Homo sapiens: one gene and its partners. The protein of the gene in region 2 purifies or fractionates together with the protein of the main gene of each other region. This does not show direct contact. Each region holds a gene or a part of one and is shown on either strand. Other genes may lie near its edges.

What was found.
Region 1: the proteins of EPB41L2 (region 2) and POTEI purify together in Homo sapiens (affinity purification with mass spectrometry; 2 studies listed by BioGRID and IntAct, with this or other methods). This does not show direct contact.
Region 3: the proteins of EPB41L2 (region 2) and ACIN1 purify together in Homo sapiens (affinity purification with mass spectrometry; 2 studies listed by BioGRID and IntAct, with this or other methods). This does not show direct contact.

Annotation. Positions count from the first base shown.
Region 1 is NC_000002.12:130,485,300-130,488,953, forward strand, and holds part of POTEI (POTE ankyrin domain family member I), read right to left. Parts: intron 2,900-3,654; coding exon 2,733-2,899; intron 1-2,732.
Region 2 is NC_000006.12:131,053,098-131,056,751, forward strand, and holds part of EPB41L2 (band 4.1-like protein 2), read right to left. Parts: intron 1-3,654. UniProt on the Homo sapiens protein: Required for dynein-dynactin complex and NUMA1 recruitment at the mitotic cell cortex during anaphase.
Region 3 is NC_000014.9:23,078,005-23,081,658, forward strand, and holds part of ACIN1 (apoptotic chromatin condensation inducer in the nucleus), read right to left. Parts: exon of another isoform or gene 2,806-3,654; coding exon 1,543-2,805; exon of another isoform or gene 1,456-1,542; intron 1,035-1,455; coding exon 816-1,034; intron 694-815; exon of another isoform or gene 263-693; coding exon 147-262; intron 1-146.

The DNA of each region.
Region 1 (3,654 bases), on a different chromosome or scaffold from region 2:
GTTTGAGACCAGGCTGGCCAACATGGGGAAATGCTGTCTCTACTAAAAATACAAAAATTAGCCAGGCATGGTGGCACACACCTGTAATGCCAGCTACTCAGGAGGCTGAGGCAGGAGAATCACTTAAACCCAAGAGGCAGAAGTTGTAGTGAGCTGAGATCACACCACTGAACTCCAGCCTGGGGGACAGAGTCAAACTCCGTCTCAAAAAAAGAAAAAGAAAAAGTCAGGAGAAAGAAGATTGAGGACTGAGCCCTGGGAAACAACAATGTCCAAAAGGAGAAAGATGAGGAGGAGCAAGCAAAACAGACCATGATGAATGGACTAGAAATGCAGGAGGAAAAGCTTGAGGGAGTGAGGTCCTGAAAGCCAAGTGAAGACGCCGTTAGGGAGGAGACGCCCTCCACTGGCTCAAATATTGCTGACAGATTAAATAAAATGAGGTGTAAGAAAAAATGCATAATTTACAGAAAAAAAATTGTGATAATCTTGAGGAAAAACAATGTTGGAGGACTGCTGAAATTGAAGACGCCGGTGTGAGATTAAGAGTGAATGAAAAGAAAATTTGAGTTCGTGAGTGTGGACAGTTCTTTTAAGGACATCATGCTTAGGAGTCATGACTGAGAATGTTGTAATTTTCTTCCACAGTCATGGAAAAGTAATAGACAAATAGTTTCAAGTTTTATATAACAGGTGTAGTTTTCAAATTTTATATAACAATAATATATTTTAAAGGTTATAAAAATTATACACATGTGGCATTAAAAATGCCAGACTGAGGTGTTAAATTCTTAAAACTATAGAACTAAAAGTCGCCTTGAACATTTCTAGATTACACATAAGCTGATTATCATTTTATTCATGCTTATGCATAAAGACCAAGAAATACTAAAAGTTTCAAGGAGAGTATTTCTTGCTTGATAAAATCAGCCAATTCTAGGACAACTGATACTCATCAAATATACAAAGTAATTGATCACAGCAAAATACTGGGTTCTATTAACAGGAATAAAGTGGGAGAAATGCAGACAATAATCTTATTTTATAAATGAAATTTTTAAAATTATATGAAGTCACTGTGGAAAAATATGGTGAGGTGAATACTGAAATATATCCTTTTCTCAAAGGAAGGATAATTTCACACACGCAGGGCACTTTTACAAATAAGAGTCACTTCACTTGCAGCACCTTCCTTTTAGCACAAGGGTCAGCAAACTAGCACCTTGGGCCAAATCCAGCCCACTGCCTGTTTTTGTAAGTCAAGTATTTTGGAACACAGCCATGCTTATTCACTTTACAGTCCACAGTGTCAATTAGCTGGGTGTGATGTTGCACACCTATGGTCCCAACTAGTAGAGAGGCTGAGGTGGGAGGATCACTAGAGCTCAGAAAGTCAAGACTGCAGTGAGCCATGATCACACAACTGCACTCCAGCCTGGGAAACAGAGTGAGACCCTGTCTCAAAAATAAATTAATTTATATAGTCCACAAAGCCTAAAATATTTACTAACTGGCTCTTTGCAGAAAAAGCTGGCCAACTCCTGGTTTAGCAGATGAAAGATCCTTTGATACATTTTAATAAAAGTTTTACCCAATATACTGAAACGTTTATATTAAATACAGATCCCCATGTACAATCCCTTGGCAATATTCAGATTGAGGGTCCAATATTTCAGCACTCAGGCACTGACATAAAAATTTAATAACTAGCAATCTTGTTGCTAACAAGGTACAGCATCAATATAGCATGTAGCTTCCATTTGCAACACAGGAAATATTACAAGAATTTTAACAAGAACTCTTAAGATGTCATCACTGATGCTTTAAATACACTTTAATTGTGAAATAATCAGTATACTCTAGATCTAACCTCACTTGTAAAAAATGGTTGCATACTACATTAATTTCTGGGTATGAAAATTGAGCTATTTCCTATTGGTAATGATTTACTTTTGATAATGATAATTTCCTATTGATAAGGATCCATCTTTTTGATATAATAATGCTGTAATAAATGTCCTTATACATAAGTATATATGTAACATCTACACAAATATCCTTTACATATATTATATATCCTTATTGTTATACATGTGTTTGTGAATATGCTACTAAATTAATGTTCAAAATGTATTTACCAGCAGTGTATGAAATGTCTTTTACAATGAAACCATTTCTTTTGCAGCAACACAGATGGAGCTGGAGGCCATTATCCTAAGCAAACTAATGCAGGAACAGAAGATCAAATGCCACATATTCTTACTCATTAGTGGGAACTAAATAATGAGAACTCATGGACACAAAGAGGAGAATAACAGGCACCAGGGTCTACTTGAAGGTGGAGCGTCACGGGAGGGAGACGACCAAAAAACTAACTTTTGGTGTTTTGCTTATTATGTGGCTGATGAAATAATCTGCAGTCCAAATCTCCATGATACACTTTACCTATATAATAACCCTGCACATGTACCCCTGAAACTAAAAGAAAAGTTCACTAAAAAGAAAAGAAAATGCCTTTTCCCTCACATTTGCCAATACTGGTTATTTTTCAAATAAATTAATGCCTGGAAAAATGGTAACTCATTGTTCGCTGATTTTCATTTTTCTGATTAACGGGCAAGGCTGAATATCCTAGTAAAACTATAAAATTTGTTCATCATGAATATTAGCCCAAACTAGGGTTAGTTTGACAGCACATAGTTATCTCCTGTTCAATGTTGCCATAGGCTTACCTGTGATACTCTTCACTTTCGTTGTCAGGAAATTGCTGATTTTCAGGTGTTCTGCTCTTCCTTTGAGGAATTAATCCATCATCACCATTGCCAGCAGTGACACCATTACTCAGGTTTTCTAGTAATCCCACATTATTACTTTCATGCTTCTTCATTTCTTCTTCAACCTTGAGTGGGATATTAAGGATAGTTATCACTTTATTGAATAAAAAGAACCTTTTTAATTGATTCTATCAATTGACTCAGTTTGTCATTATTTTAGTCATTAAAAATATTTCACACTTAAATTTGATCATATATATAGAAATATTACCATATAACTTTAAGATGTAATTATCATATCATTAATATATCACAGAAATTTTTGTAAAGTTTGCTTCATTTCTGTTTCAATGAATGAAACAGAATTTTCCAAAATTCAAAAAGGGCCCTCCTTCATTTTATGCTTTTATTCTCAATCACTCTTCAGAATCTTATGTATGTATTTACCCCATTTGACTCATGGGAACACGCAAATAAAAAGACAAAGATGCAAAATGTGTCTTCTGTCTTTACCACCTAGATTTTACATTAAACAGTCAGATTTAGAGGATGACACACTGTGCGGCTTCAGGAACAGAAAGGAAGTTTGCCCTTTTCTGCGCTAAGATATTCTTCTACCCCACTGCCTTTGAGCATTCTTTTTTCATTTGGTTGCTGGGATATCAAAAACATGATGGTGCTCACTGAAAATGGGAGCCAAAGTTTGCCACAACACAAGAAGCAGAGTGAAACTGCTGACGTGCAAGCATGGAATTCCAGAAAATGAGATGCTCCCCAAATTTCACATTGAATAGCCATACAATTTTCTAGCTGGAAGATACACAGAATAAGAAGCTATCTTCTTTAGCCACATTATCTATTGATAATCAGACTAAAACCA
Region 2 (3,654 bases):
GTTGGCTAGGCTGGTCTCAAACTCCTGACCTCAGGTGATCTGCCCGCCTCGGCCTCCCAAAGTGCTGGGATTACAGGCATGAATCACCGTGCCCAGCAAGTAAATTTTAACAAATAATAAAACATAAAAATATTCTGAAACTTTAAAAAAAAAATCAAGAAACAAGAAAATCATGTTATTTAGAGACAAAACACCAGAAAATAAAACCAAAACTAGTGAAAGTAGTTGTGGCAGACTGTCACGGTTACTACTTGAGACCATCACTACAACAGTTACTACTGTTACTACTTGAGACCCTCATTAGGAGACGGGACGAAGGGACGAACATGGAAATGATAAAAAAAAAAAAAAAAAAAAAAAAAGAAACTGTTTTAAAGGAAAGGCCAGGGGAAGAAAAGCTCCCTGCTTCTAGTCAGCAAAGGCAGCCCCCCTGAGCTCCACAGCCCTTCGTATTTATTGGGTAACAAGAACAGGGAGGAGGAGGTAGCAACTGGTCAGCTGCTTAACTGATCGCAGGTTCATATTGTTACTAACAGGCTTCAGATGTACCTAATCACAAGAAACACTGCACTTGGGGCGTGACTGCCTTCAGCATTCCTTCTGGGTGGCATACACAGTTTGTCAGTTTGCCAACATTCTACATTTATGAGAAACATTTTGTTGCTTACTCATATAGCCTCCAGTGGTATACTGAGTTGATCATAACCCTCATTCTTTCGACCTCCAACGTTTCTCCCTTTTTGTTTTTTAATTAATTGAGAAAGGCAACTACAGGCTGTGCAGCCCTTAATTGCCAGTTGGTGGTCCAGCTGATCTTACAACGGGAGGCACAGGAAACCATGGCCAGCATGGCCACAAACATGGAGTCAGGGGTCTTTGCCTGACCCTGACACTAACAGTGTCTCAGCTTCCTGTGTGGTTTTCTTGATCTATCCCCATGTCATGAGGGTTGATGTCAGTGTGACTCCGGTCGGTCCTCATTCCATCTTCGCATTCAGATTCAACTGGCTCATGGCTCGTATTAGGGGAACAAGGCCTGTAGCTAGAATCCATGGATCTCTCCAGTCTTCCATTCCATGGTCGCACACACCTTGAGGGCACCCACACAGTTTGTTCATCTCCTTATGTTGTCAAGCAGACTTGTAACGGGGTTTCTCATTTGTCTGGTTGGTTTTAGTTTTTTCTGTTCCAGCAGAACTTCCTCATTCAAGTCCCTATAGGACCCTGTCTCTATCTGTCCCTGTCTGTCCCTGCAAGTTTCTGCTAGCTTCTGCTGGTCTCTGCTAGTCTTTGCTAGTCTCTGCTAGTATTTGCTAGTCTTTATCTATCCCTGTCTGTCCCTGTCTGTCTCTACGGTCCCTGTTAGTTCCTCCAAGTTGGTGCAAGTCCCTATCTTTCCCTATCTGTCTCTATCTCTATTTATCCCTACTTATCTCTATGTGTCCCTGTAGGCCTCCTCAGGTCCCTTCAGGTCTCTTCAGGTCTCTGTTTGTCACTGATAGTCCCTGTTCGGGCGCCACTTGTGGCACATTGCCACAGTTACTACTTGAGACCTTCACTACAACAGTTACTACTGTTACTACTTGAGACCGTCATTACGAGACTGAAGGAAGGGACAAACATGGAAATAACAAAAAAACAAAAGGAACTGTTTTAAAGGAAGGGCCAGGGGAAGAAGAAAAGAGCTCCCTGCTTCTAGTGAGCAAAGGCAGCCCCTGAGCTTCCACAGCCCTTCATATTTATTGGGTAACAAGAGCAGGGAGAAGGAGGTAAGGATTGGTCAGCTGCTTAATTGATCACAGGTTCATATTGTTACTAACAGGCTTCAGATGTACCTAATCACAAGAAACACTGTGCTTTGGGCATGACTGCCTTCAGCATTCCTTCTGGGTGGCATACGCAGTCTGTCAGTTTGCCAACATTCTGCATTTATGAAAAACAGTTTGCTGCTTACTCATATAACCTCCAGTGGTATACTGAGTTGATCATGACCCTCATTCTTTTGGCCTCCAACAAGTAGTTGCCTCAGGGGAGCAGAAATCTGTCAAGAAGGGAGCTAGGGCACTGGTCTGCTGCTTTTTTTCATAATCCCTGCAGTACTACCTGACTTTCTAAATCATATAAAGCACCCTGGAGAATGCCATTTGCACTTTAAATGAAAGCAAAAAGTGCAAAACCACAGGAAAGGCAGAAACTAAAGGTCGGGGGAGAGCCACATTTTATTCTGATGTGTTTTATCCTCTGGTATATTTTTCTAATATTGAAAAATCAGGCTAGAAACATTACTTTAAATGTCTCTAGTCTGAAAAACAAGATGAAGGGTACTCCCTGTTCCAGCATGATTCAAGAATCACACAACTAAAAGTAGTACTCAGGTCTGCTTCATAATCATACCTTTACACAAAAAACTACATGGGCGAACCCAGTCAGGAAAGCAATCCTGTCTTTTATAAAAGTTAGATACTGCAGATGCCAACAAATTGCAAAAAACTTCAACTTCTACTGAGTAATAACATCGAACAATTAAAAGCAATAACTGGAACTCACAGAAAAAACAAGGGTTTTAGCCATACACAAGCTGGGTGCCCTTGAGCCATTTATTCAATTTTTAAGCCTCAGTTTCTCATCCGTAAAATAAGCACACCAGCTACTCCAAGATGGTGCTGCAAAAAAGAAGCAGGGTTATTAACATATGTAAAGTACCAATTATAGCACCTGGTGTGTAGTCTGTGCTGCAAAACCATTAGCTTCCTTATTTTTTTTTTACATGGTTATTGATTATCAAAGCTTCAGGCCTTACAGGATTACTTACAATGGAACCTAGAACAAAGCTAGAACTGAGCATAAAATGCGTGCGTCAGGGACAGGTTAAGCAAAGCAGCTGATGCGTGACAGCACCAGAAGCAATAGACACAATAGACCCAGTGGACCCAGTGGACCAAGTGCTACACCATCATCTAATTTTTCTAGCCTAAAATAAGGATATTTATATGAAACCTGATTTCTTAATGTTGGCAACTAACAAGTTAAAACACGATGTTGCTGGAAAATATGTGTGCAGGTATATTTCACACAAAGATTTATAAAGGTTACATTTTAATGCCATATGCAGAGGTTTAAACATTGTCAACAAAAATTCTACTCACTAATAGGCTTTTTTCAACAAGTTTACTGTGGTTATAGAGAGAAGAAGTTAGAACATATGCACACAATTTTACATTTATAATCAGTTACCTCTGGCAACATAACAAAAAAGACTACATTATCCCTGTGCTGTTGAAACTAGATCCCAACTGTTTTCCCATATATATGCTCTTTTGTAAATTAACAAAAAGAATGAAGTTAAGACAAGAGTTTCTAAAAGCTCAAACATTATAGATACTGGACTGAAATTGTTAAAAAGTGGTTTTAACTTGTGATCACCATAGGAAATTACTGTTTCATTTCAAAGACTGTACTTCCACACAGATAATTATTCCTGACCACTGCAAAAAATCTGCTTACCACATATTCACCAGTAACCAACCCACTAGGTCTCTTCTTAACCTAACAATTTTTACAGATGCCAGGCACTCTATGAAGCATTTTATAAGCATTAGTTCATTTAATCCTCATGTAACTCTGAGGTAGGTATGATTTTTAACCCCTTACTAC
Region 3 (3,654 bases), on a different chromosome or scaffold from region 2:
CTGAAGTCTAGCCTTTGTCCAGATAAAGCTCTGCCTTTATGTTTTAAAAGGAAACTAGGACTGCTTAGTCAAAGAACCCTAGGGAGCGAAGAACTATCGCACACTCATAGTTCCCTGTTATACCCCGGTCGAGATATATCACTTACACAGTGTGATGAATTCTTTCTGATTCTGGCAGATGAGAGGTCTGAGTCTCTGAGGTTTGGGGCTGTGTGGCAGCTGGTGGCTCTGCCTCTTCAGCTTCACACTTCTTTGGGCTCCCCTGTCAGGAGATAGCAAAAACGAACAGAGCAAAACATTTAGATCTGCTTGGTTCCTTTTCTTCTACCTGGAGCCTGAAAAAGGCAGGGCAGGACATACACAGTACCAGCTCCACACACGGCCCTCTGTATCTGTTATTTCATTTTAGAATAAGGAAAGGAACATGGCTTAAAAATAGGTACTTCAAGAATATTTATGCCAGTAATCATTTTATCAGAATTTTTAATTTTTTTCCTTTTCCTCAGTGATCCTTGTTCTGACAGAATTCTTTTTTGAGAGAACTGAGAAAAGGCTGACTTCCTTTTGGCAGATAAAAGGAGGAGTTATGAGGAAGAATTGACCCTGGGGGCCCTGGAGATAACCCTGCTGCTCAGCCTCATGTAGAACTTCTACGAACCAGGGAGCTGGAAATGAGTTAAGCAGGATTAACAGGTATCCACCACATTTCTACTGAACCTTGTCCAGACTTAACTTTTTAGTTTTATAGCAAAGACAAGAGGGAAGATCTTGCTTAATCCTCCATCTCTGTGTAGGGAGGGGTCACAATAGCCTACCCGCTCAGGCTGTAACCTCTGGGTCACATGCTTTTCAGCTGATTCAGGCTGACTCAGACGCCTTGCTTGGACAGAGGATGAGGAGGTGGAAGTCCTCTCCTTTGGCTCACAGACCTGCAGTTGTGGCACTGGTGGAGTTGCAACCTCCTGACCAGAAGAGGGATCTTTGGTTTCAGTATAGCTGGTGCTGCTGTCCCTGGAGACTCCAGGGCTCAGAGACTAAAACAAAATGAAACACATAACAAGGAAAATTATTGTATATGGTATATATTCAGTAGATTGCTGAGTTTTCCAGTTTCCATGGACCAAATTTTATACTCTGGACCTTTTTGTCTGTGTTTACTCCCATTTTGTCTGTGTTTATTCCCATTTAGTGGTCTCCTTGACCACTTATTTAACAAATTATTAAGTTTTAACTAGATGCTAGATCCTGGGACACACACGTAAAAGGGCATGCCCACATCCTCAAGAAGTTTCCATCTAGTGGAGGAGATGAGTACATAAATTCAACATTCTATCAAGGGACTCAAAATGAAAAAGAACCCCATTTCGGGAATCAGTTAATTGAAAATACGATTCTGAAATGAGGAGAAAGTAATCAGTGAAGGAGAGTAAAGGAGGCTTTTCCTATTCCTTTCAGAAATCATGACAGGCTCTCCAGGGGCTGAAATGAAAACCACTGGAATATGACAGAACATTAATACACCCGGGATTCTCTCATACTCACTTTTCTGCTGTTGCTTGATGCTGAACGAGAACGTGAACGTGACCTTGATCTGGACTCTGATGTTGATCTGGAGCCCATCTTGGGTCTACCACGAGGGTTGGCATGAGTACGTGCCTGGGCTACATCTCTCTGCTTGGATCTGAGCGGTGAATGAGACCGAGAACCTGAACTGTCAGGAGAGCGAGATCTTGATCTAGAACTGGAGGAGGAAGATGAGGAGGACCGGCTAGAGGATGAATCAGCTGACTGTTTCAATCTGTGGCTTGGGAGAAGGGTATGAGAAGCTCTTCTGCCTTCCTTCTGTTCCAAAGATGGCTGTTTCAGACATTCTTCAGTGATTCCTTTGGCCAGTGCTAATTCCTCAATTTTTAGAGGGAGGGGCTGAGCAGATCTGTCTGACTCAGGTTCAAGATCCTTCTGGGCTGAGTAGTCAGCCAGTGTGCTTTTCTGAACCAGAGGCAGGACACTCTCCTCTGGCACTTTCTCTGCTGGAGATTCTGCTTTGGTGTCTGAAGGACTTGACAAAGGAGACAGGCCTCCTACCAACTGGACAGTATGCTGAGATACTAATAGCTCCCTGGTGTCAGCATCTGTATTAGGAGGAGATAACTGAATGAGGACAGCGGGGGCTGGGCCTTCCATGGGCTCTATTTCTTCTTCGCTATGGAGCTGTGGATGAGGTGGTGGAGAAGATGCTTCCTTTGTTAGTAAAGGTGGAGGAGTCTCCTCCTCGCTGGCAGTTTGCTCTGGCAGCGCTACAAGTGAGGCCTTCTTTCGATCTTCAGTCAGTCGAGGAGGGGAAGGAGACTTCGATTTTTCCTTTAAGCCTTGTGAAGATTTTATTTCTCTTTCTTCCTCCTCAAGGGGAGATGTTGTTTTCATTTCCTTCTCCTGCTGCTGTCTGGCCAGATGACTTTTTCTAGCCTCTTCCTGGGATCTTGTAAATCTCCCTCCTCTCTCTAACACCTCCTGTTCCTGGGATCTTGTTTTGGGTCTCTCATCCATCATCTCCTCTGGTTTTACTCTAGGTATCTCTTCCCCTTCTTCCTTAAACTCTTTCAGGATTGGTGCCTCCCTAGATTTTTGTCCCTCATCATCACCTTCCTCTTCTTCATCATCTTCTTCCTCCTCCTCCTCCTCCTCTTCTTCCTCCTCTGTTTTCAAATTTCGATCTGCTCTGACCCTTAGGTTTCTGGAAGGTGTTTCTTGATCCTCTTCCTCCTCAGCAGGTTGGCTGCCCTCAGACAGTTTAGCTGCTCTTGCCTGAAAGAACAGATACACAATGGCTCCAAATGTATTTGCTCACAGTCAACAGAGGAGAGAAAGTATCTAATGAAGACACCCCTAGGAAGGAGAAATTCAATGATATATACTTTCAGCAACAGAAACAGGAGTGACAGGAGACAATCATGACTAACGTAGCCCTTAGGGGAATCAAAACAAAGTGACCAAAAGAAATATCACAATGAAGCTACTTGTATGTAGTTTAAATTTTAGCTTCAAGCACCCCCTTTTTTTTTTTTTCAGTAAAATATTAGCAGAACATCTGGAAAGTAAAAGGGTGGATAGGGGGCTGAAAGGAACTAACCTACTATCAATTAATACGATTATCTTTTTATCATTTTGGTATATTTCTTTTTGTTCTTTCCTCTAATCATTTCCTTTGTACAGTCATAATTACACTACACATAACATTTTTGTATTCTGCCCACTTAGTGTTATATAACTTTAAAGCTTTGATTGAATGGTTAATTATGTCATATCTTGTCTAATAATGTGCTTTAAGAATACAGAGCAGCCTGCTAATTTTCAAATTTAAACTTTTAAAAAATATTCACTTAGAAATCTAAAAGGCAGAGCAGATCTAAATAAAAAGACAAAACGAACAACAAAAAGATGACAAAGAGGAGAAGGAAGATAACCACAAAGAAATCTAGAGGCCAGGCAGTGGCTCATGCCTGTAATCCCAATCCTTTGGGAGGCTGAGGTGGAAGGACTGCTTAAGCCTAGGAGGTCGAGGCTGTAGTAAGCTGTGATTGTGCCACTGCACTCCAGCCTAGGCGACAGAGCCAGACTCTGTCCCAAAAAAGAAAAACAAAACCCCTAAATGTA